7 linked regions of the Homo sapiens genome follow. The protein of the gene in region 2 purifies or fractionates together with the protein of the main gene of each other region. This does not show direct contact. Each region holds a gene or a part of one and is shown on either strand. Other genes may lie near its edges.

What was found.
Region 1: the proteins of PNKD (region 2) and SETX purify together in Homo sapiens (affinity purification with mass spectrometry; 2 studies listed by BioGRID and IntAct, with this or other methods). This does not show direct contact.
Region 3: the proteins of PNKD (region 2) and PPFIBP1 purify together in Homo sapiens (affinity purification with mass spectrometry; 2 studies listed by BioGRID and IntAct, with this or other methods). This does not show direct contact.
Region 4: the proteins of PNKD (region 2) and KIFBP purify together in Homo sapiens (affinity purification with mass spectrometry; 2 studies listed by BioGRID and IntAct, with this or other methods). This does not show direct contact.
Region 5: the proteins of PNKD (region 2) and HEATR3 purify together in Homo sapiens (affinity purification with mass spectrometry; 2 studies listed by BioGRID and IntAct, with this or other methods). This does not show direct contact.
Region 6: the proteins of PNKD (region 2) and DCUN1D5 purify together in Homo sapiens (affinity purification with mass spectrometry; 2 studies listed by BioGRID and IntAct, with this or other methods). This does not show direct contact.
Region 7: the proteins of PNKD (region 2) and DICER1 purify together in Homo sapiens (affinity purification with mass spectrometry; 2 studies listed by BioGRID and IntAct, with this or other methods). This does not show direct contact.

The regions. Positions count from the first base shown.
Region 1 is NC_000009.12:132,263,967-132,268,344, forward strand, and holds part of SETX (probable helicase senataxin), read right to left. Parts: intron 1,020-4,378; coding exon 273-1,019; 3' UTR 1-272. UniProt on the Homo sapiens protein: Probable RNA/DNA helicase involved in diverse aspects of RNA metabolism and genomic integrity.
Region 2 is NC_000002.12:218,343,156-218,347,808, reverse strand, and holds the end of PNKD (probable thioesterase PNKD isoform 1 precursor), read right to left. Parts: intron 4,310-4,653; coding exon 4,223-4,309; intron 3,355-4,222; coding exon 3,239-3,354; intron 3,002-3,238; coding exon 2,828-3,001; 3' UTR 1,016-2,827; downstream 1-1,015. UniProt on the Homo sapiens protein: Probable thioesterase that may play a role in cellular detoxification processes; it likely acts on a yet-unknown alpha-hydroxythioester substrate.
Region 3 is NC_000012.12:27,680,745-27,685,122, forward strand, and holds part of PPFIBP1 (liprin-beta-1), read left to right. Parts: intron 1-801; coding exon 802-952; intron 953-1,642; coding exon 1,643-1,754; intron 1,755-1,870; coding exon 1,871-1,959; intron 1,960-4,378. UniProt on the Homo sapiens protein: May regulate the disassembly of focal adhesions. Did not bind receptor-like tyrosine phosphatases type 2A.
Region 4 is NC_000010.11:69,009,303-69,012,802, reverse strand, and holds part of KIFBP (KIF-binding protein), read right to left. Parts: intron 1,904-3,500; coding exon 1,788-1,903; intron 1-1,787. UniProt on the Homo sapiens protein: Activator of KIF1B plus-end-directed microtubule motor activity. Required for organization of axonal microtubules, and axonal outgrowth and maintenance during peripheral and central nervous system development.
Region 5 is NC_000016.10:50,103,970-50,108,650, reverse strand, and holds the end of HEATR3 (HEAT repeat-containing protein 3), read right to left. Parts: intron 3,713-4,681; coding exon 3,590-3,712; 3' UTR 1,379-3,589; downstream 1-1,378. UniProt on the Homo sapiens protein: Plays a role in ribosome biogenesis and in nuclear import of the 60S ribosomal protein L5/large ribosomal subunit protein uL18 (RPL5). Required for proper erythrocyte maturation.
Region 6 is NC_000011.10:103,064,129-103,068,506, reverse strand, and holds part of DCUN1D5 (DCN1-like protein 5), read left to right. Parts: intron 1-1,939; coding exon 1,940-2,048; intron 2,049-2,133; coding exon 2,134-2,238; intron 2,239-4,129; coding exon 4,130-4,232; intron 4,233-4,378. UniProt on the Homo sapiens protein: Contributes to the neddylation of all cullins by transferring NEDD8 from N-terminally acetylated NEDD8-conjugating E2s enzyme to different cullin C-terminal domain-RBX complexes which is necessary for the activation of cullin-RING E3 ubiquitin ligases (CRLs).
Region 7 is NC_000014.9:95,098,530-95,102,029, forward strand, and holds part of DICER1 (endoribonuclease Dicer), read right to left. Parts: intron 1,407-3,500; coding exon 1,251-1,406; intron 1-1,250. UniProt on the Homo sapiens protein: Double-stranded RNA (dsRNA) endoribonuclease playing a central role in short dsRNA-mediated post-transcriptional gene silencing.

The sequences.
Region 1 (4,378 bases), on a different chromosome or scaffold from region 2:
ACCTCCTTGTCTATAGAAGACTAAGAGATCAACATTTCCAGTCTCTGACTTCAAGGACATTATTACGGATACACAATGCCCTCTGAAAGCTTTTGCAAATGACAGAAAATACTGAAGATGACCAGAGGCTCAGGTGTTAAGGATGCATTTTCCATGTTTTCCAACAGCACACAAACTCCTTACAAAAAACAAGCTTATCTAGATGGTCCCACGAGCTGGTCATCTTCAGTTTACAATATGCTGTGGCTGCTGGCCCATGTCACTGGGCTTTCCTATAAAAGCTTTCTTTTCTTGGAACTGCTGTCCTCCTGCTCCAGTGTCCTCTTGTCCCACCTAGAGTTCCTCCTGGTGTGATGGGTCTCGGAACCACACTTCTCCTGCTCCCCTTCACTGAAAGCCCTGGCCTCTCTCCTGTGACAGAGCTCCTCTTCCGGGTCATCACATTTGCTCTGACACGTGGAAGCCTCGGGACTGGCAGCTGGAGGTTCGCCCCGCACGGGAGGTTTGTGGCTGCTCAGAGCAGCCACTACAGCAGCGGGCTGCTGTATATGGCTCAGGTCCTGGTGAACGACAGGGAAGCCCGGCTCGCCCGTAGGAGGTGTTGCTCCAGGATGCTGGGGGCTCGAGGGTTGTGGATCCCAAAGGAATATTCCTCCTTTGACCTCAATGCCCATCCTCTTCAGCAGTCGTGGGTCCTGAAGTTGGTCATGAACAGGAGGTCTTTCAGGGTCCTTTGAAGTAACAGTAAGAGTAATTTCCTTGGAGTCAGAGGGTGTGTGGTATAGAGAAGCAGCAACAGATGTCTTGGCAAATCCACTGTCTAGCTTGCTGCTGGGCAAACCACCCTGGGGTCTGGACCCCTCTGGGGCTATGGTAGGAGGGTGAGTGAGACTTCTCTGCAGCACAGGCTTGAGTTTCAGAATCTTCACTGCATCATGTCTATAGTTTTTGTCACAGGTCTTAATAATGGCACCACGCTTCTGAGCATCCTGAATCAGCTGATTCCAATGCTGGTTTTCCTTGAAACAATGAGAAGGGAGAAATAATTACACCCCAAAGAGACACTGCTTGGGAAGCATAGAGTTCCAGCTTTCATTTCTGAACAAATAATACATATTATTGTATGAACATATTCTCAAGATTCATTACTCGTCAGACAAGGATGAAAGGAAAAAATAAATTCAAATAAAAAATGATAAAGTCCCATTCCTAAAAATAAGACCTGGTCACAACCTATAATGGAGAACTTCAACTTTTGTTTTTTTTTTTTTTTTTTTTGAGACAGAGACTCACTCTGTTGCCAGGCTGGAGTGCAGTGGCGCGATCTTGGCTCACTGCAACCTCCACCTCCCGGGTTCACGCCATTCTCCTGCCTCAACCTCCCGAGTAGCTGGGACTACAGGCACCCGCCACCACGCCCGGCTAATTTTTTGTATTTTTAGTAGAGACGGGGTTTCATCATGTTAGCCAAGATGGTCTCGATCTCCTGACCTCATGATCCGCCCGCCTCAGCTCCCAAAGTGCTGGGATTACAGGCAGGAGCCACCGTGCCTGGCCGAACTTCAGCCATTTTTATCAGTGCATTCAACTGCAACGCAGGTCTGCACTAGTCACTAGGAGCATCATGTTGCTATTTATATTTCAATAAATTAAAATAAAAAATTCTGTTCCTAAATTGCATCAGCCACATTTCAAGTACACAGCGGTCACACACGACTAATGGCTATTGTACTGAGCAGTGCAGACACAAAACATTTCCGTTATCACAGAAAGGTCCTTTGGACATTGGTGATCTAGAGTACTGCCTACACCTCTTGGCAGGGCTAACGTTCTGAAACAGGAAGGTCTGGTTTCAGAAAGCAAACTTCTGAGTGCATGTGACTATTCTAGAAAAAGGCCCAAGGCTTTCACTGGATTTCTAAAGGCCTCCCAAACCCCGAATGGCTAAAACATCTTCATCCACCGAGATCTCAAGATATCATCTCACTTTCTGCCTGTTTCCTACAGGAGCTTAAGATATTAAATCCCATCGGGAAAGTTGCCAAACACATGCACCTCTCCTCTCTTCCCGAGTTTCTTCAGAGGAGGCTGCTGCTTTACAACCACTAGAATTCGGGTCTCTTTAGAAAGAAGAAAGAAAAGAAGAAAAAGGATAGCTACCCTCTCATGGGGGCTCCTGTACTGTTCATAAAGGTATGTTAGGGAAGCAGTGAGGCTGCACAGTATTTACTTGCTGTGTGACCTTGGTCAAGTCACTTGACCTCTCTGAGCCTGTTTCCTCATCTGTAAAATAGGAGTAATATTTTATTTAATGGATTCTAAAGTGCACGTTGCTTTCACATTTTAGCATTTCTGACCTTGGGGAGCCTCTTGGCCATGTACCTATCCTTGGAAATTACATGATGAGGCAATTATAACCCTTAGACTTTTAGTCAATAAACCATTTAAAAATAATGCCTGAAAACCTTCTACAGACATTTTCTGATAAGACAAGATAACACCAGCATTAAAACTTATGCACTGGGCCAGGTGCAGTGGCTCATGCCTGTAATCCTAACACTTTGGGAGGCTGAGGCGGGCGGATCACCTGAGGTCAGAGGTTCAAGACGAGCCTGGGCAACATGGTGAAACCCCGTCTCTACTAAAAATACAAAAATTAGCCAAGTGTAGTGGTGCACAGCTATAATCCCAGGTACTTGAGATGCTAAGGCATGAGAATCGCCTGAACCCAGGAGGCGGACGTTGCAGTGAGCTGAGATTGTGCCACTGCACTCCAGCCTGGGCAACAAGGTGAGGCTCTGTCTCAAAAAAAAACCCCCAAAAAAACCTTATACACTGGAGATAAAGGGTTCTAAGAAATCCTGGAGACAATGGTGTAACTCTTAGCAAATGCTAAATTGCCAACCTTATTATTGCACTTGGGATGAATGACAACACTGATGACTATGGATTGGGAAGTGATTCATTCGTGCTAAATTCTGAAAGTGAAATATTTTTAGGAATATCTTAACCTATTATTTTACTTGTATTTTCTATGTATGGATAAGAATATGGTAAAAATCTGTCTAAAGTCTTAAGAGTCCTTTCAATAAATATGAAAGTTCTAAGTGAAAATAAGGCACTGTGTCATAGTCTAATAATGGTACATAAAATAGTGGTGTATATTATAATGAATGGTTTCTTGAATTTGATGAACTATGGTAATAAGCTGACTTCACAGTAGTTTTTCAAGGTTTGGAGAAAGTCATGTGACCAGAATAAAATGCTTGGCCCGGTGGCTGGCATACTGAAGACAGGTCTGTGGAGGGAGCGCCAGGCTCTGGGGGCTCAGTTCTCTTTCTCACTCAGATCTCTAGAGATCCTTAGCCTGTGGCTCAAACACATATGTGAAGCAGATGGCCTTGCAATTTTTGCTAAGTTCACTACACCTAAACTTGGTGTTTAATCCATTCCTAAGATCACAGAAACAGTTCTGAGCAGGCACTATTAGCCTTGGTTTCTCAGAGGAAATCAAACGCTTTAATGATTGATCCCATTCCCATAAGGGGAACTAGGCTAAAAACTTAGAAACAAAAGCAAATGAATCCCCAAAACAACAAAGAAAAAGCCCAAGGACAAAAAAAGTTAGGAAGCCCAGCTGACATGTCGGGAAGTTTCAGATTCTCGTCTGTCTCTTTTTGTAGCACTGCCTTCCTAGAGTGAAGACAATGTCGGTGCCATTAGCTGGAGGTCAGTGGTCTGCACAGTTGTGCAAGTGTGACCCAGGGGCTCCCAAACACTGTCTAAACGGAATGTGAAAAAGGGTTACAGAATAACCTTGCAAACCCTACTTCCCATGTCCTCCTTGGGCTGCCCTGCCTCCTGCACCCCACCCTTCACAATCATGATGCGCCTCATCCATCCAGAGTGCACTGCCAAGACACATCAACACCATGAGGTGCCAACTTAAGGGAGGATGAAAAACAGTAGTGCCCACAAAGCCTCCTTTAATCAAGGCATCACTAAAAGATGTATCTCTAGCAACATTTCATTTACTTGTCAGGTTTAAACATGATCAAAATCTGTGATATTAAATATATTTGTCTTGTTTTGCTCAACTGTACAAATAAGTGTTAACAGGCTATTCAATTGATAAGAGATCACGTTTTAACACTCAGATGCTTATGGTCACAGGAAAAGCAATTTTTAAAAATCCAAACCTACATTTTGAGATAACTATAGATTTACAGGAAGTTGCAAGGAAAGTACTGAGAGGTTGCATGCACCCTTCACATGGGTTCCCCAAATAGTGATAAAAATCAACTTTTTAGGCCGAGGTGGGATGACTTTAGCCCAGGAGTTTGAGACCAGCCTGGACAACATGGTAAGACCCTTTCTC
Region 2 (4,653 bases):
CAGCGATTCTCGTGCCTCAGTCTCCTGGGTAGCTGGGATTACAGGCGCTCACCATCATGCCTTGCTAAGTTTTGTATTTTTAGTAGAGACGGGGTTTCACCATGTTGGCCAGGATGGTCGTGATCTCCTGACCTCGTGATCCGCCTGCCTCAGCCTCCCAAAGTGCTGGGATTACAGGCGTGAGCCACCACGCCCGGCCCTTTAATCATTTTTATGAACTGAAAACCAGTGTCACTTGTCAAAAATAAATATTGAACCCAAATATAAATATAATGAAAACAAAACGATGTTGTTAAAGCTTAACTACAGACATTTCCCAACTAAAGTATGAACCTGGATCCCGGGTCTTTCTTTCCAAAGACATTAAAGACAGACTAGTGCCAAGACCGTGTCCTTGAAGTCCAATTGATTGCTGTGCTGTGGCCATGTACAGCCACCCTACTTTGGCCAGTGGTACACTTGTGTATCTCAAGCTTTGGGAAACATTGAGATAAGCAAATCGTAAACCCTGAACAAATGCCCATGGGCCTTGGGAAGAACATATTTTAGGCATCATTTCTCTCTCTCTTTTTAAAAAAATTTTTTTTTTTTTTGAGACAGAGTCTCATTCTGTCGCCCAGGCTGGAGTGCAGTGGTGCGATCTCGGCTCACTGCAACCTCCGCCTCCTGGGTTCACGTGATTCTCCTGCCTCAGCCTCCTGAGTAGCTGGGATTATAGGCTCCTGCCACTATGTCTGGCTAATTTTTTGTATTTGTAGTACAGATGAGGTTTCACTATGTTGGCCAGACTGGTCTCGAACTCCTGACCTTGTGATCCACCCGCCTCAGCCTCCTAAAGAGCTGGGATTATAGGTGTGAGCCACTGCGCCCAGCCTTTGGGCATCATTTCTGATCAAAACTCTTGAAGTGCCTAACTGCAAGTTAGCAGGCCTGGAACTGAGATGGGAAAACTGTGAGAAAGTTCTCTGCTGTTTTCACTCATGTAGCAACAAAGACAAGCTGTTGGGTGATCAAGTCTTGATTAAATCATTCATTCATTCAACATTTATTGAGCGCCTACTGTGTGCTAGGCACCGTGCTAGGCGCAGAAATACAGAGATGCATAAGATACAGTCCATGCCCTTAAGGATTCACAGTCTAGAAGGGGAGACAAACATGTAAACAAGTAAAATACAGTGTGATAAGTGCCACAAGAGAAGCATTGACAAAGTGCAGAGGTAGCCTGGAGGGGAGGGGCACAGGGGTTGCCTTCCTGGAGGAGGGGGCCTTTGAGGGGATCGTGAGAGATGAACTTGCCAGGCAGACAAGGCAGGAGGAGCAGGGGAAGGCATTCCAGTCGGAAGAAACAGCATGAGCGAAGGCACAGAGGCATGAAACTGCATGTCTTGCTTGGTGAGTGGGGAACTCTAACTAGTCTGGTGGTATTGCTAAAGTGTACTAGAGGCTGTGGCTAGAGAAGGGGGCAGAGGCCAGATCATGAGGGGAAACTGAGGGCAGGGGCATCTTGGAGGGTCACCAGAGGTGAGCAGAGCCCGAGGGCAGGCTTTGACACAGGAAAAGAGGGCTCCTGGCTGACTCAAGGTACACCTGCCTGAGGACCACAGGGTTCCTCGCTGTGGCTCCAAAGGGATCTCGACCCAAGAGTAGAGGAGCAGCAGAGCTGGAGGTGAAGCAGAGGGGTCGGGCCAGGTCTGGGACCCAGAGCTGCCATGCACTCCCGCGCTCTCACAGACTTCTGATTTCCAACCTGCACGTCAGAGCCCCCTCCTGCCAGCCGGATGGGGGCCTGGATCCAGTGGGAAATCACATGGGAATATGGCTGGCAAACTGCAAAGGGCCAGATGAGTGTCAGGTTACAGAATAAATCTTTACTAACTCAAAGAAGAAAAGGGCTGCGGATAAAACAGGAAAGGTTAGATGGAGGAAGGCGGGCAGACGGGCCTAAGAACAAGGGCCAAAATGAGAATACAGCATCGGCCAAAGAGGACCGTGGCTGTCTCTCCCCTGGCAAGGAGGGGCCCTTTTGGCCCAGGGCAGAGGCAGAGGCCAGTGGGTACAACCAGGCCAGATGTGCAAGGAGAGCATGTGACCTGCAAGACTGTGGGGCTCCACACTCCAGACTCCAGTGTCTCCTTAGCCCAATGAGGAGGTTTCCTTGGCAATCAGGACCCTCCTTCTTCCAGGCTGTAGGGAGGCCACTGAGGCAGAGAGTGGCCAGCCAGCATTCCAGCCCTTCAGTGTTCTTAGGAATGGCTCTGTCTGAAAAATGGCTTTGCAGGGATGGGTGGGGCAGGGAGGCTGTGGGAAGAGGGCAGAGTCTCAGGACACCAGAGTCCAGCTGCCCATCTGAGTGGTGCTTTTGTAAGGCATCACACTTGAGGCCACTGTGAGGGGCTGAGCTTCTTTCCCAACCATGGATGGGGGAAGGGCAAGATGGACCCTGGGTTCCAGGGCTACAGTGAGATGAGGCCTCCTGACGGAGAAGCTAACAGCAGCCCCCATGTCCTTGCTGCCGTCCCAGGAGTAGGGAAGGAGGAGGGGACCCTCCCAGTTGGTAGGGTCTGGAGATGTCCCGAGACCCCTCCTTTCCTCTTGCCGTTGATGAGGCAGCCTCGCGCTGCGGGGTTCCCAGCCTCCAACAGGCCCCCTTCTTTTGGCCTCACAGTCTCATCGCCTGATCCCTCCCCTCCCCTGAGCAGTGTGGGGGGATGATGCCCGCTTGGGTGCCGATGGAGGTGGTGGTGTTAGCGATGAGAAGGATGATGAGGTGTTGGTGGTGGCGGCCTCCCCATGCGGGGAGTGGGCTGGGCTGGGGGCGCTGGGGGCATCACTTGCTCTTGTGCATATCCTTCAGCCGGCGGAGCTCTTCCAGGAGCTGGGCCCGGGAGTAGTCATCATCCCCAGTGGGGCCCGGCCCCGGCCCCAGAGCCTCCTGTAGCGCCAGGCAGTGGGTTCTCAGGAACGGGTTGTAGGAGCGCTCCTCTCCCAGGGTAGATGGGCACTGTGGGTGAGAGGAACCAGGTTTGGTGGAGAGAAGCTGGGAAATGGACCCAAGACAGAGAAGCCTGACCCGACCCCTGCCCCATCCTGGAGTTCAGGAGTTCTGACTTGAGGGCCCATGGGCCAAAGAGGTCAGAGTTTTGGGGAGGTGCTCGCAGGCCTGGGGTCAGCATGGATGGGTTCCCGTTGGGGCTGAGTGCCTGCCCACACAGCTCCTCCTGGACCCCGAGTCCCTCACCGTGCCCTTGCGCTCCAGCCGCTGCCGCTGCACCCACTGCATCTTCCTCTCCCGGGCCAGGTTCTCGGGCTCCACCACACCTGCAAAGCCCAGGTTCTCCTCTGCATACTCATGACCTACCGACAGCCATGAGGGTGAGACACAGAGCAGAGAGAGATTGGTGGTACAGTCAGAACAGTCTTCCCTGCCCCAGGTCCAGGCTGATGGGCACCTGACAACTAGGGATGAGGTCAGCACTTCCAGGAAAACCCCAACTGCCAGGAGCTGCTTCTCTAACTGTGGGCACAAGTCAGCCATGGGTGAAAAGGTGGCAATAGTTCCAGGGGAAAAAACCACTAGACCTGGAGCTGGCAGGCCTGCATCTAGCCCTGACTCCACCAAGCCTAGCATGTGACCTCGGTCTAGTCATGGCCCCTCTCTGAGGCACAATTTTCTCATTTGGCAAGTGGAGAGAACAATGATGCCACCAGACACAGATGTACCTGCTGTGTTCCTGGTGCCTGGAACAGAGCCTGGTATGTGTTAGGTGCACATAAAGTACTTGATGAATGAATGAATGAATGAATATATGTTCTGAGGATTAACAGATATCTGTGAATGTTTTTATGCACCACAAGGCAATGGTTACATGCAGAGTGGATTTACTGACTTCTCCCCAGATAAGCAAAGGCTATTTTCTGTTCTGGGCTAAGGCTATGAACAATTAGACATCTCTCTGGAATGCCCTGGGGCCTGCAAGGCTCCCAAGAGGCTGAAGGCTGACTGGCAGGGGAAGGTAGTGTGAGAAGCAGAGGTGGTACGGAGCCAGCACTCCAGGAAGAAGGGAGGCCAGAACTCTGTCCCTACCCCTAGAGGTGGAGCTGTGTCGCTTCTGGGCCAGGAACTGGGCTGGCCTGCTTTCTAGGGGAGTGAGGGGGTGGGAAGGCCCTTGTCCCAGGCTGAGCGTGGGGCTGGAGGATGGGGAGTAGTAAGGGGGTGTCTCACCAGGCCACAGAAGGGTGTCATCCCCTAGCCCCAGCACAGTGTCCAGTGAGCTCAGCATGGTCTCTGCATTGCCCTCAAAGGTCCGCCCTGGGTGGGGGTTGGAGGGTATGTCACAAGGTGCCAGGATAACACAATATGGCATAAGGCACACCCAGACAGGTGGGAACCAGCTTGTAATGCTCTGGCTGGCCGTCAGCCCTGACTGTGCACTTTCCAGACCCACCCCAGGCATCTATTCCCTCCTCACTGGGAACTGGGCCCAACTGGTCACCCCCTGACCAAGCCCATCCGAGGCCTCCGTTGCACACAGTGACACCTGAAGGGAGGGGCTGTGGAATCTTCGGGCTGCAGGCCCCAGGCTTGGTAGACGCAGGGCTGCTCTTTCCCACGGAACACTTCTTCGCCTAGGCTGCCCTTTGGGATTTCATGCA
Region 3 (4,378 bases), on a different chromosome or scaffold from region 2:
TACTACATTGACTCACTGTGCATAAGAGGGTGGGGTTGGCAAACATAAAGTACAAGACATTGATACCAAATCTTTTAACAGTATAATAGACTGACTAGAAACCCTTTACATATAGCCCCTCCCATACAGGTGGAACACTGGACATAGGTTACATCAAGGAGGAAACTCTCTTTGGCCTTCTTCAAATACCAAACAGTTTCATTTGCCATATGTTGTCTTTGAACACAGTAGAGCTCCTTGTACTATTTAAAAAAAACCATTCATCTTCCCCTCCGCACCCTGCCCCCACCCCGGAACAAGAACACTATTTGTGTATCTAAGTAAAAGAAAACAGGAATTTTGCTTTGATTGTTTCCTACACTCAGTGACAACATATTGCCCTCTTCTCATTGGTTACCATATGGAAAGAAACCATAATTCTGCTAAAGTTAGTTCAAATTAGACTTAAGTTTCTTTCAGTCCAACTGAGTTTCCTGTTTGGGAATCCAATCTTCAAACAACATTGGTTAAAACTGATACAGTGACTTGTGTTTGTCCAATTTGGTCTTTTTCTGTAGCACTTGTTCTTGCTCTATCACGTTAAATCTTTTGTGGTTTCATTTGAAATGAAGACAGTGGTCTTAGAAGATAACTTTCAACCAGTTGTTCCTCCAATGTATACTAAAAATTAAGCTTTTCATGGTCAAATGTGTATCACCAGGGAATTTCCATGTCTATTGAATGTATAGTTGTTTAAAACTAATGATAAGCCACAGGATTGGCTTTGGATTATTTTTCATGCAATTACTCATTTTCCTGTAGTGACTTGGATATGCCATTTGCCAAGTGGACCAAGGAGCAGGTTTGCAATTGGCTGATGGAACAGGGCTTGGGCTCGTACCTGAATTCTGGCAAGCACTGGATTGCATCTGGCCAAACGCTTTTGCAGGCTTCTCAACAAGATCTAGAGAAGGTGACTGCTTCTCTGTTTTGTTCACACAATGGATACTGAGAAGAAAACAGTATGAATGTAGGGTTGTTTTATAGTCCAGAAAGGGCCATGAGTGAAGCCAGTAAAAACTCTGTAAACAAAAGTTTGGGTTTTCAATTGCTTCATGCTTCTTTTTTCTGGTGGTCTTGGGAGGACCTGGTCTTGATGATTCCTTATGGAACACTTAAGCCATTGGGCATTTTAATGAAAAAGAATTACATAAGCATAATTCAGTTCATATTTCTCGAAATCATTGTTTGGCTTTATCATTGGCCTGTTTTTCTCAGTGTAAGATATGCAATTAACTTCACTTTGCAAAAGAAAAAAAAAAAGCACCCTACAATTTGTGTCTAATTATTTAACATTTCTTCCAAATTATTTAATATTTTGTACAAAATAAGAGTCAAATTCTTTTTATGCATGCTACAGTTCCTAGCTTACAAAGAAAATGAGTCACTAGGGAATGCCTAACACACCCCTAAGATAATTGTGGTGGTCTTGGCTTTTCAGGGACCTTTTGTTCAACAACACTTTACTAGCCCAAGTTGGGATTGTAATTCAGTATTGAATTGGGTCTTTAATGCTAGCTTCATTTTGGAGAAATTTGCATCCTTTGCCAGTGGCACCCAGCCTATACAGATAGAATTATAAAGTCAATGTTTATTGTTTCAGGAACTTGGAATCAAGCATTCACTTCATCGAAAGAAACTCCAGCTAGCACTCCAAGCCCTGGGATCTGAAGAAGAAACCAATCATGGGAAGCTGGATTTCAACTGGGTCACTAGTAAGAAGTTTTTATTCTAACAAAATGAAATAATTATATACATAGTTGCTTTTTCTTTTTAATCACAAGAACAGATGTTTTGTGGCATGGTAGCAACACTGGCCTCTCTCTTTTAGGATGGTTGGATGACATTGGCCTCCCTCAATATAAGACCCAGTTTGATGAAGGACGGGTTGATGGTCGAATGCTACATTACATGACTGTTGTAAGTGACTCACTCCTGGGGTTTGGGGGAGGAAAACTTTTTTTCTCTGAAAAACACAGGAATTGAGTAAGCCAAACACAGTGTTTTCAGTGATTCCACCAGAGTTTGAAGCTGTTGCTTGAACTTGAGGAGAGTGGCAGGCATATTTCCCATGAGGCTGAAGTTGTAGCATTTGGTGATTGTGATTGAACAGGCTTGGGATAATTTGAAACCCCAATGTAAGCTAAGTGAAGCCTAATTTAAACTAAGCTCTCCAGAAGGTTGATTTTATATGTAATACATTCAACAAAGTAAACACTGAAGTGTACACTTTGAATGGGTACATTTTATGGTATGCAAATTATATCTCATAAAGATTTTTTTTGTATTATTTCTTTTGAGATGGAGTCTCGCTCTGTCACCCAGGCTGGAGTGCAATGACGTGATCTCAGCTCACTGTAACCTCTACCTCCCAGGTTCAAGCCATTCTCCTGCCTCAGCCTCCCGAGTAGCTGGGATTACAGGCTCACGCCACCATACCCAGCTAATTTTTTTGTATTTTTAGTAGAGACGGAGTTTCGCCATGTTGGCCAGCTGGTCTCAAACTCCTGACCTCAAGCGACCTGCCTGCCTCGGCCTCCCAAAGTGCTGGAATTATAGGCATGAGTCAACACGCCCAGCCTAAAGATATTTTTTAAATAGAATGTAGAATTTTTAAGCCCAAGCTATCTCTAAGTTATGGGTTTCTATGTGCAATGACCATTTGGAAGAGGCCACCCTTTTGACCTGACATCTTCAAGGACTTGTCTTCTCCTTTCCACTCTGGACAACTGTTACCTGAAACCCTATCACCCGTCTCACTTCAGCCTAGTTCTGCTACAGCAGGAGTTACTGGGGTTAAAGGAGGAGGGAGGAAGGCTAGACTTCTACTCTGGTTCCTTCATTATTGTACATTTCTAGCCCTCCAGCCAATGTGTAGGACTATTCCCTGCTTTACAGCAGTGAGAAAGATGGATTCCAGGAGAACTTTGTTTTAGGTTCCATACCACTATTAATGTTCTACTTAAAATTCTCTTTATTTATTTATTTTTATTTTTATTTTTATTTTATTTTATTTTATTTTGAGACGGAGTCTCGCTCTGTCGCCCAGGCTGGAGTGCAGTGGTGCGATCTCGGCTCACTGCAACCTCCCTCTCCTGGGTTCATGCCATTCTCCTGCCTCAGCCTCCCAAGTAGCTGGGACTACAGGCACCTGCCACCATGCCTGGCTAATTTTTTGTATTTTTAATAGAGACGGGGTTTCACCATGTTAGCCAGGATGGTCTCGATCTCCTGACCTCGTTATCCACCCACCTTGGCCTCCCAAAGTGCTGGGATTACAGGCGTGAGCCACCGAGCCTGGCCTTGTTCTACTTAAAATTCTTTTATTTATTTATTTATTTTGGAGACAGAGTCTCACTCTGCTGCCCAGGCTGGAGCGCAGTGGCACAATCTTGGCTCATGGCAACCTCCACCTCCCAGGTTCAAGTGATTCTCCTGCCTCAGCCACCCGAGTAGCTGGGATTACAGGTGCACACCACTGCTCCTGGCTAATTTTTGTGTTTTTGGTGGAGATGGAGTTTCGCCATGTTGGCCAGGCTGGTCTGGAACTTCTGACCTCAGGAGATCCACCTGCCTCGGCCTCCCAAAGTGCTGGGATTACAGGCGTGAGCCACTGTGCCCGGCCTAAAATTCTTTTATTTAAACAGCTTTTTGTGAAGTAGGCTATAGACCTAACTACCCTAAGTATAATCTTTTTCAAGTAAGTAGCAAGTTTTAAACAGCCAACTTAAGTAGGCATTTCTCAATGTCAAAAAAATTTGGAGTTCAGTTCATGGATTTTTCTTCTCTGTCATTGAACCCAAGCCCCTTACCTTGATGAGCACATCACATAAACCTGCGTGAAATAATACTAATATGTGTAGTATGTTGCACATTTGCTATGTGTCAAACATCCTTTTAAGCATTTTGCTCATATTAATACTGGATTCTCAATAACCCTTTTAGTTAATATTACTAATATTATTATAGTGTGTATAATATATATTAAAAAGTTTTTAAAACTTTTTATTTTAAGATAATTTTAGATTTACAGAGGAGTTGCCAAAGCTAGAATTCTGTATACCTTTCACTCAGCTTCCTCTAACGTTAACATCTTACGTAATCATGATTACATTCATCAAAATTAAGAAATTAACGTAGATGTTAATACAATCAACTAAACTGAAGACTATTCACATTTCACCAGTTTTTCCAGTAAGGTCCTCCTTCTGTTCCAGGATCTAATCTAGGACACTACATTAAAACACACATTTTGTGACTTACGACTTCTGGGGTCAAATTTTCCAGGGTCATTTACTCTTTTATAGCCATTTCACATACGCTGCTTGTGATTTTAAGC
Region 4 (3,500 bases), on a different chromosome or scaffold from region 2:
TCCTGCCTCAGCCTCCCCAGTAGCTGGGACTATAGGTGCACACCACCATGCCTGGCTAATTTTTTGTATTTTTGGTAGAGACAGGGTTTCAACATGTTGTCTAGGCTGGTCTCAAACTCATGGGCTCAAGTGATCCACCCACCTTGGCCTCCCAAAGTGCTGGGATTATAGGCATGAGGCGCTGTACCTGGCCTCAAGTAGTTCTTTATAGCAGTGTGAGAACAGACTAATACAACCACTAAAGATTATTATACTTTTATCAAGCAGAGTCCCATGTAAAAAAAAAAAATTATCATACTTTAATACACAATATAAAAAAATAAAAGCACAATGAATCCCCCAGGAAATCTTCCTATGTATCTACACTTAGTATATTGCATCTAAATGATTAATTTTATTATCCTCCCTAGTGCTTAGAAACTAGGATTGGGCATAAATTAATAATGATGATGGTAGTTAACATTTATTAAGGACTTAGTATGTCTCAGGCACTTTTCCGAGGCCTTAATATATACTGACTTAACTCCCATAACAACAGTATTAAGTACTATTATCTCCAACTTACTTGTGAGGAAATAGAGGCAAAAATATATTAAGTAAATTGCCACAAAGACATAGCTACGAAGCGGCAGAGCTGGAGTTCATACCTACCTAGTGTATTTCAAGTCCATGCTCTTCACTGCCATCAGTTCTGCTTCTATTTTTGAACTATTACATGAGCTATTTCTTAAAAGTCTACCCTTTTAGATTTTATCAAGTCCATGCTGTGTGTAAGATAACACTGGGAAGTATATAAAGATTAGTAAGGGCTTGGCCAGGTGTGGTTGCTCACACCTGTAATCCCAGCACTTTGGGAGGCCGAGATGGATGGATCACTTGAGGTCAGGAGTTCGAGACCAGCTTGGCCAAAATGGTGAAACCCCATCTACACTAAAAAGACAAAAATTAGCCAGGCATGGTGGCAGGCACCTGTAATCCCAGCTACTCAGGAGGCTGAGGCAGGAGAATCCTTTGAACCCAGGAAGCAGAGGTTGCAGCTGCGATCACACCACTGCACTCCAGCACGGGCGACAGAGCAAAACTCCGTCTCAAAAAAAAAAAAAAAAAAAAAAAAAAAAAGATTAGGCACAGTGGCTCACACCTGTAATCCCAGCACTTTGGGAGGCCAAGGCAGGAAGATCACTTGAGCCCAGGAGTTCAAGACCAGCCTTGGCAACACAGTGAGAGCCAGTCTCTACAAAATAATTTAAAAATTAACTGGATATGGTGGCACACGCCTGTACTCCAAGGATGAGGTGGGAGGACTGCATGAGCCGGGGAGACCAAGGTTGCAGTGACCCATGATCACGCCACCACACTCCAGCCTGGGAAACAGAGCGAGAGCCTGTCTAAAAAAAAAAAAAAAAAGAATATGATATCGTTCCCAGCTCTCAAGAAGCTTATATTCTAACCAAAGAAAAGTCTTCAAGGAAGAGGTAGTATTTAAGATAGGCCTTGAATGATGAGTAAGATTTATTTTATTTATTTATTTATTTAGAGATGGAGTCTCGCTCTGTTGCCCAGGCTGGAGTGCAGTGGTCCAATCTCGGCTCACGCAGCCTCTGCCTCCCGGATTCAAGCAATTCGAAGAATACGATTTAAAACCAAGAAAGAAATATTTACGAAAACATTCTACACACCTTTCATATTAAACACAATGTGACCCCAATGAGCACAATCCCCACTATGAGTTTTTACTTACAATTTCCTCATTTAAGAAAGAAAAAGGCAGCTTCTGACTGCATTACCTGCATGGAGAGTTGGGCATTCTGCATGAGAGTCAAACAGTATTTGATCCAGCACCTTGCTATTTCCCCCTTTCTTTGATGATAAAGCTCTGGCACTTCTCCTTCAGCTTCAGGAGCTAAAATATACATGTGATTTGTTTAAGTTAATGGTCACAACTGTAATTTTCATTGGGTACTGTAATTTTTTTAATATCACTTTTTCCTGACTATAAAAGTAACAGATCTTTACTGAAGCAGGGGGCTTGGGGAAAAGGGAAGAAAGATCCCCCCCCAAATCCTACTACCCAGAAGCACTCACTATTATTTTTGCATATTTCTTTCTCGCACCACAAACACTTTACTCATATCATTATCAACTCTTAGCTTCATTTTTAAGTACACCATTATATACAATTAAATAGATATTCTATTATTTAACCATTCTTCTAATTCTAACCTGGAATTTGTTGTTTCCAATTCTTTACTATCACAAAAACGTCTATGTCACACAACAGATGGTTGTGGAGAACCTGGTGCTAAACTATTCAGATGACCTGCTTCTGGGTCAGAGTGTCATACATAGCAGAGCAGCTTTCTTGCTGTAATCTACAAAGTCAGCTGTCAACACAAAGCTTTGTAAAGTTTATACACATACACACATTTTTTTTAAACTTGAAACATGAGTATAATTGTGCAAAAATCTGTCTGGATTTTGGATTTCTTCCTTAGGGCAGATTCCTAGAAGTGGAATTTACTGAGTAAAAGAGTTTACACAATTTTAAATAATTCACAACATACAGCCAAATTATTTTCAACAAATATGCCAACCAACAATATATGAGAATGCTCAATAAGAACATTTTGAAAACACTGGTCACTGTCATTTTTTCAGCTATTATGAAGAGTAAAAACAAAATAATATCTCACGATATTACTTTAAATAAAGTGAATTATTAAATAATATCTCAGCAATTTAGTTTTTATTCATTTTTTGAGACAAGTGCCTCTTAGACTTCAACTAATCTATAATTAATGTAGTTAATATATTAGGGGAGAAAGCAACTATTTACTTTGATAATGTACATTCCTTTAGCTCTTAAGAGTCTCTGCATTTTTCAGATCCACAATTAGAATGTCCATTTGTAAGGAAGACATGATGTTTCAAAATCTAAAACATCGTAAGAAGGTTGGAAACTGTTCAACAGTGAGCAATAGAATCAAACTATTTTTAAAAATAAACTATTTTTAAAGAAAATGATGAACTTATTAAAAAACCTGTTAAATGACTCAAAGACACATGTTAACTGTGATTTTCTAAGACTAAAGGAAACACTATACTTAAAAAGATGGGTATTTGGCAACATCGCTTATGCATGTAGTATTCCAACCAAAAATATATCATCTGAATCATGGCATAAGGAAACATCACACAAACCCCAGCTGGCAGTAATTCTATGAAATAACTGGCCTATATTCTTAATATTAAGTGATGAAAGGGAAAGAAAGGCTGAGGAACAATTCCAGACGAAAAATGCCTGAAGAGATGTGACAACTGAATGCATTATGCAATCTTGAACTGTATAATCCAGTACTGGCAAACAAATGCTAGAAGGAATATTATGGCAACAACTGATGAAATAGAAATATGCAGTGTAGATAAAAGAATTGTATCAATGTTACTTTTTTTTTTTTAATTTCTTTAAAAACATAGAGATGGGGTCTCACTATGTTGAT
Region 5 (4,681 bases), on a different chromosome or scaffold from region 2:
CTTACCGCCCAGACTGGAGTGCAGTGGCGTGATCTGAGTTCACTGCAACTTCCGCCTCCCATGTTCAAGCGATTGTCCTGCCTCAGCTTCCCAGTAGCTGGGACTACAGGGGCATGCCACCACATCCGGCTAATTTTTGTATTTTTAGTAGAGACAGGGTTTTGCCATGTTGGCCAGGCTGGTCTCGAACTCCTGGGCTCTAGTGATCTGCCCATCTTGGCCTTCTAAAGTGCTGGGATTACAAGTGTGAGCTACTGCGCCCAGCCCCCAACCTTTTTTTTTTTTTTTAAGAAAGGTTTTGCACTGTTGCTTAGGATGGAATCATGATTCACTACAGCCTCCATCTCCTAGGCTCAAGCCATCCTCCTGCCTTAGCCTCCCAAGTAGCTGAAACTACAGGTGTGCGCCACCAAGCTCAGCTAATTTTTTTTATGTTTAGCAGAGACAAAGCTTCCCTATGTTGCCCAGGCTGGTCTCAAACTCCAGAGCTCAAGTGATTCACCCGTCTTGGACTCCCGAAGTGCTGGGATTACAGGTGTGAGCCACTATGCCTGAACAGTGTATATTTCTTTCTTTTTTTTAACAGAGCTCACTCTGTTGCCCAGGCTAAAGTGCACTGGTGCAATCTTGGCTTATTGCAACCTTCACCTCCTGGATCCAAGTGATTCTCATGCCTCAGCCTCCTGAGTAGCTGGGATTACAGGTATGGGCCATCACACCCGGCTAATTATTTTTTTTTTGAGGTGGAGTCTTGCTCTGTTGCCCAGGCTGGAGTGCAGTGGTGGAATCTTGGCTCACTGCAACCTCCACCTCCCAGGTTTGAGTTTCTCCTGCCTCAGCCTCCCAAGTAGCTGGGATTGCAGGTGCATGCTACCACACCCAGCTAGTTTTTGTATTTTTGTAGAGATGGGATTTCACTATGTTGGCCAGGCTGGTCTCAAATTCCTCACCTTAAGTGATCTGCCCACCTCGACCTCCCAAAATGCTTGGCCTCCAGTGTGTATTTCTAACGGGCTATTCTGGGTGATTTTCAAATAAGTATATTTTAAAGCAGACTTTTTTTCCCCTATGGTCATACAGAAAAAGCTCTCCATTATCCTGTGCCATGAATAATACTTGCATGCTCTATTGAGTTATTATGTAAATAGTTAAAACTGTATGCTGTATTTATGAGTTGTTTTCCCTTCTTTTGTGTCGTTAGAGTGGTAAAGTTGAATGGGAGAAATCCAGACCCAATTATCCATGCCTCAGAATCTAAGAGATTTTTAGGATGGCACATCTTCAGTGTCATCTCATCTTCTACCGTGTTTAAGGATGATTCTGCATTCAACAGCTGCTTTAGAGCTTGCTTAGTAAAACAGAAAATCACACACAAAACAACGAGAAAATCACCAGCATTTATTTACTCAACAAATATTTATGAAGAGTCGACTATATACTAGGTCCTGTGCTAAATATCCTGGATATTGTTTATAGGTCAGAAACTGTGGGGAAGAATAAACAGAATGAGGAACTTTTTTCTCCTTGAAAATAATTATATTTTATAAATAATTGAGGCAGAGAGAACTCTAATACTTTCTTTTTTGGAAGAGTCGTTCTCCAAGGAGACATGCTTGGGCCAATCATTTAGCTGAAATGATCACTAAACATACATATATACCTTAAAATTCATGAGCAAGGACCATAATAAAGCGAGGTGTTGTATATGGTATACATTTCTGTTTTCCCACCATATACACAATTTGGGTTATTTTACTTGGTGCCATGGGCTAGGAACTCTTAGGGCTGGGAAACAATCTTGGTTTCCCAACAGTCTATATCATATAGGTGAAAACTGTAAAATACATCACAGTGCAGATGAAATCTAACACTACTAGCTCATTTTGTGCTGCTGTGGAAGCAGTGAATTAAAATTAAGTCCTGTACTGGGGATTGGGCCTTTTGTCAGGGCAACTGAGATCAACTGTACAGAAATTTTCAAATTTCCCTTCTCATCAGGCAAACGGATGGACAATGAAGCCGGTTCAGAGGCCCAGCCGAGACAATGATGCACAGGGAAACTCCCTCGAGCCCCAGCTGTCACCTAGTACTTCGAAGACACTGAGAGGTAATGCTGCAAAGTCGTGCTGTCATTTTTTTAATGTCTCACATATATTCCAAGCAATATGCATTAGCAAACAAATATCCACGAATAGTATCATCTCATTTTCTACTAATAACCCTTTATTTGGTATCTTAAAAAAGATTTTGTAAGACACAAAACTTTCCATTAAAAAGTTGTTTATTTAAAAATACCTTCTCCCAATTCTGATTCCATATCAAATTAAATCAAGAAGTGATGTTACAGCAATAACTCATCAAAGTCATGAGTAGGGAGGATGGCAATGACCCCATTAGCTCATTAGTATAATCTAGTAAGTGAAATAGAAATTCAACTCATTTACTTCTTCACAAAAGGCAAACATAATTGATATACTTCATATCAAAAAACTAGTTTATAAAGCTTGTCTTCATATTTCAGTTTAAGGTTCAACTGATATAAAATGCCTTAAAAGAACATCCAAGCAATGCTTTGGATTTTCTTTCTTTGCAAAATTCAAGGAAAACATGATTGGTTGAAGTTTCTTCACTGCTGGCGAATTAGTTAAGAGCTACCTGAGATTCCTTCGCACTTCCACTCTTCCACTCTTTGAGTTTCCAGTGATTAAAATATGCCAGAGACATAATTTAGAGAGCGCTAGAAATGCCACACAGATCTCATCACTTAAAAAAGAGTTTCTGGCCAGGCACGGTGGCTCATGCCTGTAATCCCAGCACTTTGGGAGGCCAGGGCAGGCGGATCACTTGAGGTCAGGAATTTGAGACCAGCCTGGCCAACACGGTGAAACCCGTCTCTACTGAAAAAAAAAAACAAACCAAAAAACCAAAAACAAAAACAAGGTGTGGTGGTGGGTGCCTGTAATTCCAGCTACTCAGGAGGCTGAGGCATGAGAATCGCTTGAACCTGGAATGGCAGAGGTTGCAGTAAGCCAAGATCGCAGCACTGTAATACAGCCTGGGCAGCAGTGAGACTCCATCTCAAAAAAGAAAAAAACAACAAAACAAAACAAACAAACAAAACACACACACAAAAAAACCAGCAACAGAGTTTCTGACAGGTTTTGAAGTTTTTTTTTTTTTTTTTTTTTGGAGACAGGGTCTCCCTCTGTCACCCAGGCTGGAGTGCAGTAGCGTGATCTCAGCTCACTGCAACCTCTGTCTCCCAGGTTCAACCGACTCTCCTCCCTCAGCCTCCCGAGTAGCTGGGATCACAGGCATGTGCCACCATGCTTATGCATGCGGTTTCACCATGTTGGCCAGGCTGGCCTCAAACTCCTGACCTCAAGTGATCCACCCGCCTCGGTCTCCCAAGGTGCTGGGATTATAGGCGTGAGCCACCATGCCTGGCCAGGTTTTGAAGTTTTTACAGAATGTACAGAATGTAATCATTAAAAAATGACTTTCAGAAACATATACATTCAAAGAAAACCTTTTAGTATTCTAAGCATTGAATACTTTGGGGGAAGAACTGGTTTCTTTTTTGGATTGTTTAAGAAGTCAGTCTTTTCTCAACAGTTTCTTGATAAGCAATAAATCTTCGCAAATTCATTTTCACATTGTCAAGAACACACAGCTGATCTGTGCTATAGTTACCTCTCCCTTCTTTACGTATCTGCAAACAAAAAACAAAAAATCATATATGACTTGGTAGATATGATTAATTCATTTAAATAAAGTATTTAATTTAGGGTGTATTTAACCATTTGCTGAAGCAGATAGCTGTAAGAATTTGGAAAAAATGTTTTTACTTCCAAGGTAAATGGAACTCGGTAAGTAAAGAATAAACTGAGAATGTGCATTATTAAAAATGATAGTTACAAAGGTGACTGAATGGCAGGTGGTAGGAGTTATATAAACTATAGAAAGGAATTATGTAAACCATGAATTGGGAAAATAACCCCTAACCTCTGAAAGGTCTGCTGTTCAGATTGATTTTCCTAGTTAGTATGCATTGCTATGGTAATAATACTTAATTGTTTTTCTTCTCTCAAAGGTATAAAGCCTTAATGAAATTCCTTTGTTAGGCTGGGTGCATACTCATGCCTGTAATCCCAGCAGTTTGGGAGGCCGAGGCAGGAGGTTTGCTTGAGTCCAGGAGTTCAAGACTAGCCTGGGCAACACAGTGAGACCCCACCTTAAAAAAAAAATTCCTTTGTTAGCCAGAGGTTAGTCTGTAGTGTTGTGGTTTTTTTGTTTTTGGAACAGGGTCTCTCTCTGTCGCCCAGGCCAGAGAGCCGTGCTGCAGTCATGGGTCACTGCAGCCTCGACCTCCCGGACGCAAGTGATCCTCCTGCCTCTGCCACCACAGTAGCTAGGACTACAAGCAGCGCACTACCATGCTGGAGTAATTTTTTTAAATTTTTAGTAGAGGTGGGGTCTCACTATGTTGCCCAGGCTGGTCTTGAACTCGTGGGCTCAAGTGATCCTACCACCTTGGCCTTCCATAGTGCTGGGATTACTGGTGTGAGCCACCATGCCCAGCGCTGGTTTTGTTTGTTTGCTTGTTTTTTGTTTTTAATAGAGATGGGTCTTGCTTCATCGCCTAGGCTGGAGTGCAGTGCTGCAATCCACTGAGCTCACT
Region 6 (4,378 bases), on a different chromosome or scaffold from region 2:
GGCTGCTTAGTATTCCATAGTGTACATATACCATGGTGTATATGTATTTTCTTTGTCCAGTCCATCACTGGTGGGCATTTAGGTTGATTCCATGTCTTTGCTATTGTGAATAGTGCTGCAATGAACATTCACCTGCATATCTTTATGGTAGGATGATTTATATTCCTCTGGGTATATATCCAATAATGGGATTGCTGGATCGAATGATAGTTCTACAAACAATACTTATCAAAACTTGTGGTTGCAGCTAAAGTTGTATTAAGAGGGAAATTATAGCCTTAAATACTATATTAAATTAATTAAATTCTGGTAAGATTGGTCAAGAAAAACAACAAAAAAGGGATGAAGATAATGCTAATGCAAATTAGAAAATGTTATAAATTTTAATCATATTTAAATAAACTTATATGTAAAATAATCAGTTATGAGAAAAGTATGGGACCAAAACATTCAAAAAGAAATAGAAAATCTGAATGGCCCTATGGCCATTAAAAATGTTGGTTTATTAGTTAAAAGTTTTCCTTCCCTCAATACTCACCTGAGTTTGGACAGATGCTAATTCCAGGGTTACATAAGCTTTTTCAAAAAACGGGGGGGAAAAGTAGCAATTCTCTTTTCATTTTCTGAGTCTTATGTACTACAATCTTGTTAAAAAAACTAGCAAGGAGAGTAAGAATGAAACTTAAAAGCTAGTCTCACTTAGGAACCTAGCAAAACAACCCCAAAATCCAGCAATGTATAAAACAGATAACATGACCAAATTTGACTTATTCTAGAAATGCAAGGTTTAATTAATATTAGAAAATTGTCCAAAATATTTACACATTAATGAAATTATGTTACTACACATTATAGGCCTTTGCATTATTGATTTAGTATAGTCTTAGTTAAATCTGAGAATGCCAGGTGGCTGGAGAGCATGTTGAATAACTAAAATTCAGTTTTGAGTGGAATACTGTGGACCACAGTAGATGGCACAATTAATTTGATTAAAGGGAGTCAGATGGTCTCTCAGAGGTGGCAAAATGTGAGTTAGGTCTTGATGAATAATATTTTTATCAGCATGTTTGAGATTTCAAGTGGAAATAATGGGTGCTGAAGTATGGCAGTGGCATTTGGGAATGGTAAGTGATATAATTAGAGCATGGTAAGGTTATCAGGAAGTGGCAGGAGATGAAACTAGAGATTTGTGCCAAATTGTGAAAGGCCTTGACTGCCTTGCTTCTTGCTAAACAGTGGAATTTATCAACCCACTGAGACAAAGTCAGTTAAGATTTTTGAGCCTTCCATATATTTAGCTGCTTATATTTAATGTCTTGTCTTTAAAAATAACACGTATGACTTGTTGTTTGCATGCTTTTGCATATATAACTTATTTGAAGTTAGGTGCTTCTACTGATTGACTTTGACTTTTTGTTCACAAAAATATAGGGATCTTGATTTATGACTGGACCACTTAATGTATTAATTTGCACTGTGTTATATCCTAAACTTTTAAAACTACTCATGACTAATGTCTTTCACCAAACTGTTACCTACGAACTTTCTAAAGAAATGTGTGACAAAGGCGTGATTAGTTTCATTTGCTCTGCCATTTTTAGCTGTATATGTGATAAAACATGTTTTAATACATCTCTTTTTAACTTCGATTTTATTTGGAATTTTTGAATGAGCTGTTTGTTTGTTTTTAAGCAAAGTAATTGGAGTGAACTTTCTTTGATTCCCAGGTTTTCTTTTTTCCCCTTTTTTCTTTTTTTATTGCATTGGTAGATGCAGGGCAAGAAATTTATTACTCTAAATTTGTGACTCAGAATTTTAAAACTAAATTAACTTCATAAATGCGCTCACTTTTTTCTTAATGCATTACGTCTAACCCCCAGTGATACTTTTATTTGATTTTCTTGATTATGTAATTTGTTTGATATTTCTTTTATTTAAGGTGTGACTGCACAGAAAAGTTACAAAACAAATTTGACTTTTTGCGCTCACAGTTGAATGATATTTCGTCATTTAAGAATATCTACAGATATGCCTTTGATTTTGCAAGGGTAGGTGCAATTTTCTTGTTTTGTTGTTTTAATAGCTTTTCATCTTGAGACCACACTTAGGAAAACTTTTTCACTTATATTTTAGGATAAAGATCAGAGAAGCCTTGATATTGATACTGCTAAATCTATGTTAGCTCTTCTGCTTGGGAGGACATGGCCACTGTTTTCAGTATTTTACCAGTACCTGGAGGTACGTATGTTTTTTCGAATTTTGAAAATATTATTTTAAAACTTAATCTGAAAGTTATACTTTTGAGGAACAAGTAGATTTTTAATAGTATGCTTTAAAAAAACTTTAGAGAAAAAATTCTAAAATATGTACATATCAGTTGCTATTTTTAGATAGAAGTTCATGTTTATTAATATATTTTGTACCTAAGATATTTTCAATCCTACCCCCCCAGTCCCCCAAATAAAAGAAACCTCCAAGAAATACATTGTATCACAGACATTTGTCTTGCAGAATTAGTTTCTCGGGGTTTTCATAAGAGAGTTAATGCTAGTACACAAACCTTTAAGCTTCTAAATCTGATTTTCTTCTTTTGTTACACAGGGTCTTAAGCTGAAATGTACATAAGAGAACCAATTTAGTAATAAAACTTTCCTTTTCTACTTAGGCTCAATCTAAAGAAACAGAATAAAGCTATTAATATTTTATGGCCACAAATATGAGAATGGCTATAATAGTATACTTAAATATGCTGGTTACTAAAAAAATGTAAGCTGAAATGATGACGTGTTCTTTTAGAAGGTTTATCATAGCAACTACTATAGGCAGTGATTCTAAGAAGATGCTATTCTTTTTTTCCATTGCTTTGTCTAGTTTTTTTTTTTTAAATCTGTTTTTGTGCCTTTGTAATTCTAGGGTTATTGGTATAGTTCTCACCATATCTTGAATACAGATGCTTTTTCCTTTGGAAATAATTTCTCATAAAGCACATTGCTTATAGCTGCTTCCCTTTTCCCAGAGTAGTAAAAGTTGTGATACAAGACAGTGATATCAGCTGGGCGTGGTGGCACACGCCTGTAATCCCAGCACGTTGGGAGGCCAAGGCAGGCAGATCACTTGAGGCCAGGAGTTCGAGACCAGCCTGGCCAACATGGTGAATCCCCGTCTCTACTAAAAATACACACAAAAAATTAGCTGGGTGTGGTGGTTTGTGCCTGTAGTCCCAGCTACTCGGGAGGCTGAGGCACGAGAATTGCTTGAACCAGGGAGGTGGAGGTTGCAGTAAGCTGAGATTGCACCACTACACTCCAGCCTGGGTGACAGAACGAGACTCTGTCTCAGAAAAAAAAAAAAAGAGACAATGATATGAAAAGGTCTTACATGAATGAGTTTTACGCATGATTCAATCTGTAAGTCCTATAAATTATTTTTGATGGATGGTATCTATTTTCTTCCTATTAGTAGTTTTGGGCAAAAATAAATTTAACTGAATGTAAAAATATTCAGCTCTATGGGGAGCTGAGAAGAACTAAATATTTTCAGACACTTGTTATGTGCAGGTTGTTTGGCATATATTTTTAAAAATCTTTATAATACCATTTTGAATTAAATTCTATCCCCATTTAACAAATGAGGAGGTGGTTTCTATTCTTAAGTAACTTTCCCAAAATCACTCAATTAAGTGGCAAGGGTGGGATTTAAATCGAAGCCTATACTCTTTCACTTGTTTCCAAAGATGCCAAACTCAAAATGTGGCTAAACAGTAAATCTTGAGCAAAGAAATGATTTACTAGGAAGCAGCACAATAGAACATACTGGATGTAGGAAATGTTATATATCTTGATCTCATTGGTGGTAACACAAGTATATACATATGAAAAAGTTAGTTTTATCCTTACTGTTAGTACTCAGTGCTCTTATTATTCCTCAAAAATGAAAAAAAAAGTAAAAAATAGATTATGTTAATATGTAAATGCCCATGAGGAATCTCTTAGAAACACAAATAATTAAAAAAATAGTAAATGTTTTAGAAAAAACCAAATCACAAAAACAGTTAAAACTTAGTTTACTAAATTGAGTAAATGATGTTTGTTTAAATATTTAAATACAAATATTTAAATCATTTTTGCAGCAATCAAAGTATCGTGTTATGAACAAAGATCAATGGTACAATGTATTAGAATTCAGCAGAACAGTCCATGCTGATCTTAGTAACTATGATGAAGATGGTGCTTGTAAGTATAACATAACATGTTCCTTTGAAAACAAAATTTCCAAAAATATTAAATGAGAGTATGCATTTGTGTAGTATTAGCATAGAGGTTTTAAACTTTGTAATAGTAACTTATTTAATTGTGTGAGGGATTGTGGGAGAAGTAGA
Region 7 (3,500 bases), on a different chromosome or scaffold from region 2:
AAATTGAACTTTGTGTTGTATCTTAAAAAAAAAATCAATGACATGCCAATGTCACCTTCATGCTACAAGTTTTTAAAAAGAGCCAAAAACATTATGAAACGGTATTAACAAAGGAGGATGACTGTTACTGGAATGTTATTCATAGAAATACCATACCATTTCTAAAGTTGAAAATCTATACATTTTCCTCTAAGGTTCTACATATTTCTAAATTAATAACAAATAATTGTTCGGACCTAACTTGCATTAAAATATTCCCTTAATGCTTTTCCAAATAAGTTCTAATTCTGTAATAAGACAAATACTACATGAGTTAAAAACATCCTCAATAAATAGGTAAAAATCCAAATAGTGTCACTGAACATGCTACCTGGAAATACTTAAAGGCAGATATATAGGATACATGCATCACAAAGAAGACATGGAGAAAATGGATATTTAAAAATATAACCTTTGAAAGAAAAAAACGGTATTATCATTGTTGGCCTGAGGTAAAAATGAAGTAACAATGAGCCAATTTATTTTTAATGCAAAATAAATCTCCAAGAAATGAAACTGTCTGAAGCATTGCCTTTAACTTCGGAAGAGGCACTAGAACTCTCCCAGTCAACCACCACTGCGCTGGTTCCTGCAGTTTGGAGGCCCTCCCAAGTGCCCTCTGGTGGCCTTCAAGACAAGACAAAATGAAGTGGCTGTTGCTGATATTTGGAGTCTTCTTAAGTCACTGGCAAGATTTAAATTATTTCCAGAAAATAACAATCTTTATGGATGATTTTTTTTTTTTAAGTTCACAGGAGTCCTGACTGGGAAAACCCTGAGCTACAAAAGCAAGATTTTACTGAAATTAATTATTTCACAGACAGACTGGAGATCACAGGTCACTGAAAAGTCATTTCACTGAACAGAGCTAAGGATCTAGGATAAATTGTAATAACAGCAAAGTGAAATTTTTTTAAAGAAGAGCAAAACTCAAAGTCAAAACATCACATACTCTTATGCCTTTGGAAAAGAAATAATAAAAATAGAAATTTGCCTCCATCAAAATTATAATACTATTTCTGAATTCAGTGAAAAGACAGTGTAATTAAAGGAATTAATTAAATATATCAAATATCTACTCTATTATAAACATACCAAGAAAATGAAACAAAAAATTAATAAAACAAATTATTTGGCTCACCGAAAAGTAAATCCCTCCAGTTACACACACACACACACACACACACACACACACACACACACAAACTTACCATTTCATCTTTTTCCCATTTATCTGTGTTGCTTTTGTCTTGATTTACTACATAACCAGGAGGAAGCCAATTCACAGGGGGATCAAATATTGACACCACCATGCGGCTGGGTAGTCCCTTCTTTTTTCCAAGGCGATACAGATTACAGTTGCTGACCTTTAGCAGAAAATATTAGGATACTTATCCATAAATGATCACTGCTGGAATTCATTCAAGGCATATTAACATATCCTCAGTTAAATGTTCTTAAAATTAATCAATTAATTATATGTCATCAATTAATTATAAGGGCTCTACAGTTTTTCTACCCATTCATGTTATAAAAAGAATATTAAATTCCCACATATTCTATGCTTTTTTGGTGTAAATATTTCTGAATATAAGATGCAGAGCAGAAAAAATAATGTATATAACTATGCATACTCCTTATGAATGACTGAGAAGAAACACTTCAGACAATATCAAAGCCTTGAAAATACAACCTGATGATATAAAATGCAAACTGCTAACTGGAATTACCAAAGTAGAAAAGAACCCATAGAAAAAGTCAAGATGTCACAATATTTTCAATGAAATGGGGGGAGGATGCCATCAGCTCTAGCTGCAAAGTGAAAACTGGCACCGAACAAAACTGAAACAATGTTATATTCCTAGAATCGAAGCCACAAACGGGATTTCAACTGTAATGCTCTCTCAAATATTATTCCTTTGTTTTACAGCCATTTCAAGACACTTTTATTCAACTTAAAAAAAATGAACCAAAAGGTTTCTGTTTATTCACATTAATGGAACAGCTTTACTATCTTACCCTCTACTCCGGTCTGTTTTTCCTAATGCCTCTATCTCCTTCTTAATTTCTCACATCATTGCATTTCTGTCAAGTTAGTACTTGGAAACTAGGGTCTAGAATTGTCAATCCCATTTTCATTTTCATAAAGCTCGGTTCCTTATTATTAAGTACTTCATTAGCCCTCTTCCCATGTAACTCAACTATTGTTTAATAGACACCCCCCATATGAGAGGCACTCGATTGGGCAACCCTGAGGGAACGATGGCAGCAGGACAGAGGGGCAGTCCTCGTGACACACAGGCTAGCAGGGAAAAGGAGGGTACGTGTGACCACTATAGCCAAAAGTACTCTCCCTCTCTGCCTGAAACGTAGCAGGCTGAAATAAATGCTAGCTTCCCTTTCCAAGCTAAGAGAACAAAGCATCACAAGCGCCAAGAAGAGGATAAAGTACAACGTGGACTCATGGGAGGGAAATCACATTCCAAGTTGACAGAAATGGTGGGCAGGATGAAGAAAGAGCTACGTAAGGTCTCAAATATGGGGCAAAATTCTGGACAGGTAGAGATGGAGGCAAGCCCTCTGCAGAAGGAAGGACAGAGCAAGGGCCCCAAGGCTGGGGGTCTGAGCGTGGAGTCTGTCCAATGAGCTGCAAGGGGCTTCCACCTGCTTAGGATCCAAAACGCATCAGGGCTGAAAGGGCCTGAACAGCAGGCTGAGGGAGTGATCATTCTTTCTGCAGAAATAAGGAGTAGAAGGTTTCTGAGCAGACAAATGGACGAGTTTTGTAATAGAAAGTCACCTCTGTCTTGTCTAACAGAGTATCCTATCCTATTGCCTATGCCACACTTGTCCAAGCCTCTGATACTTTCTTCCTGCAACCACCTCTTGGAAATCTCATCCATTCTCAGAGCTTCCGTATGGCGACTACTCTACAAAACCGTATCTGAATCCTACAGCCTCAATTATCTGAACATTTCCACTTCATATTCCATGAGGTCTAAAATCTCAACTCTAACATGGACTTCCCACATTTCTCCCTACCTCCCTGCTACTGCCACTGCCCCCAAGTTGCCAGTTTACGTGGTTGTTATGACTGCGCCTCCAGTCCACCTCAAGATCATCCTGGGAGGCCTTGGACACACTCCTGACTCTCCCAGATGAACAGTTAGGTGACCTGACAGGAGCCCATTCGACTCTCTAAGTGTGAGTCCCCTCATCTGCAAAACAGGGATGTGTTGTCTCTTTCCCAGAGGCTTAGAGAAGAGTGAATGAGTGAGCACTTGGGAAATGCTTGGTGTGCTGCCTGGTGTGATGGTTCTATCCGGAGCAGTTAGTGTGATGGGGAAGGGGAAGGTCTCCAAAGCCAGGCTGTCTGGATTCGACCCAAGCTCTGCCACTTACTTGCCAAGTGACCTTGGGCAAGCTAACTTCTCCAGCCTATTCTCACCTATAAAATGGGG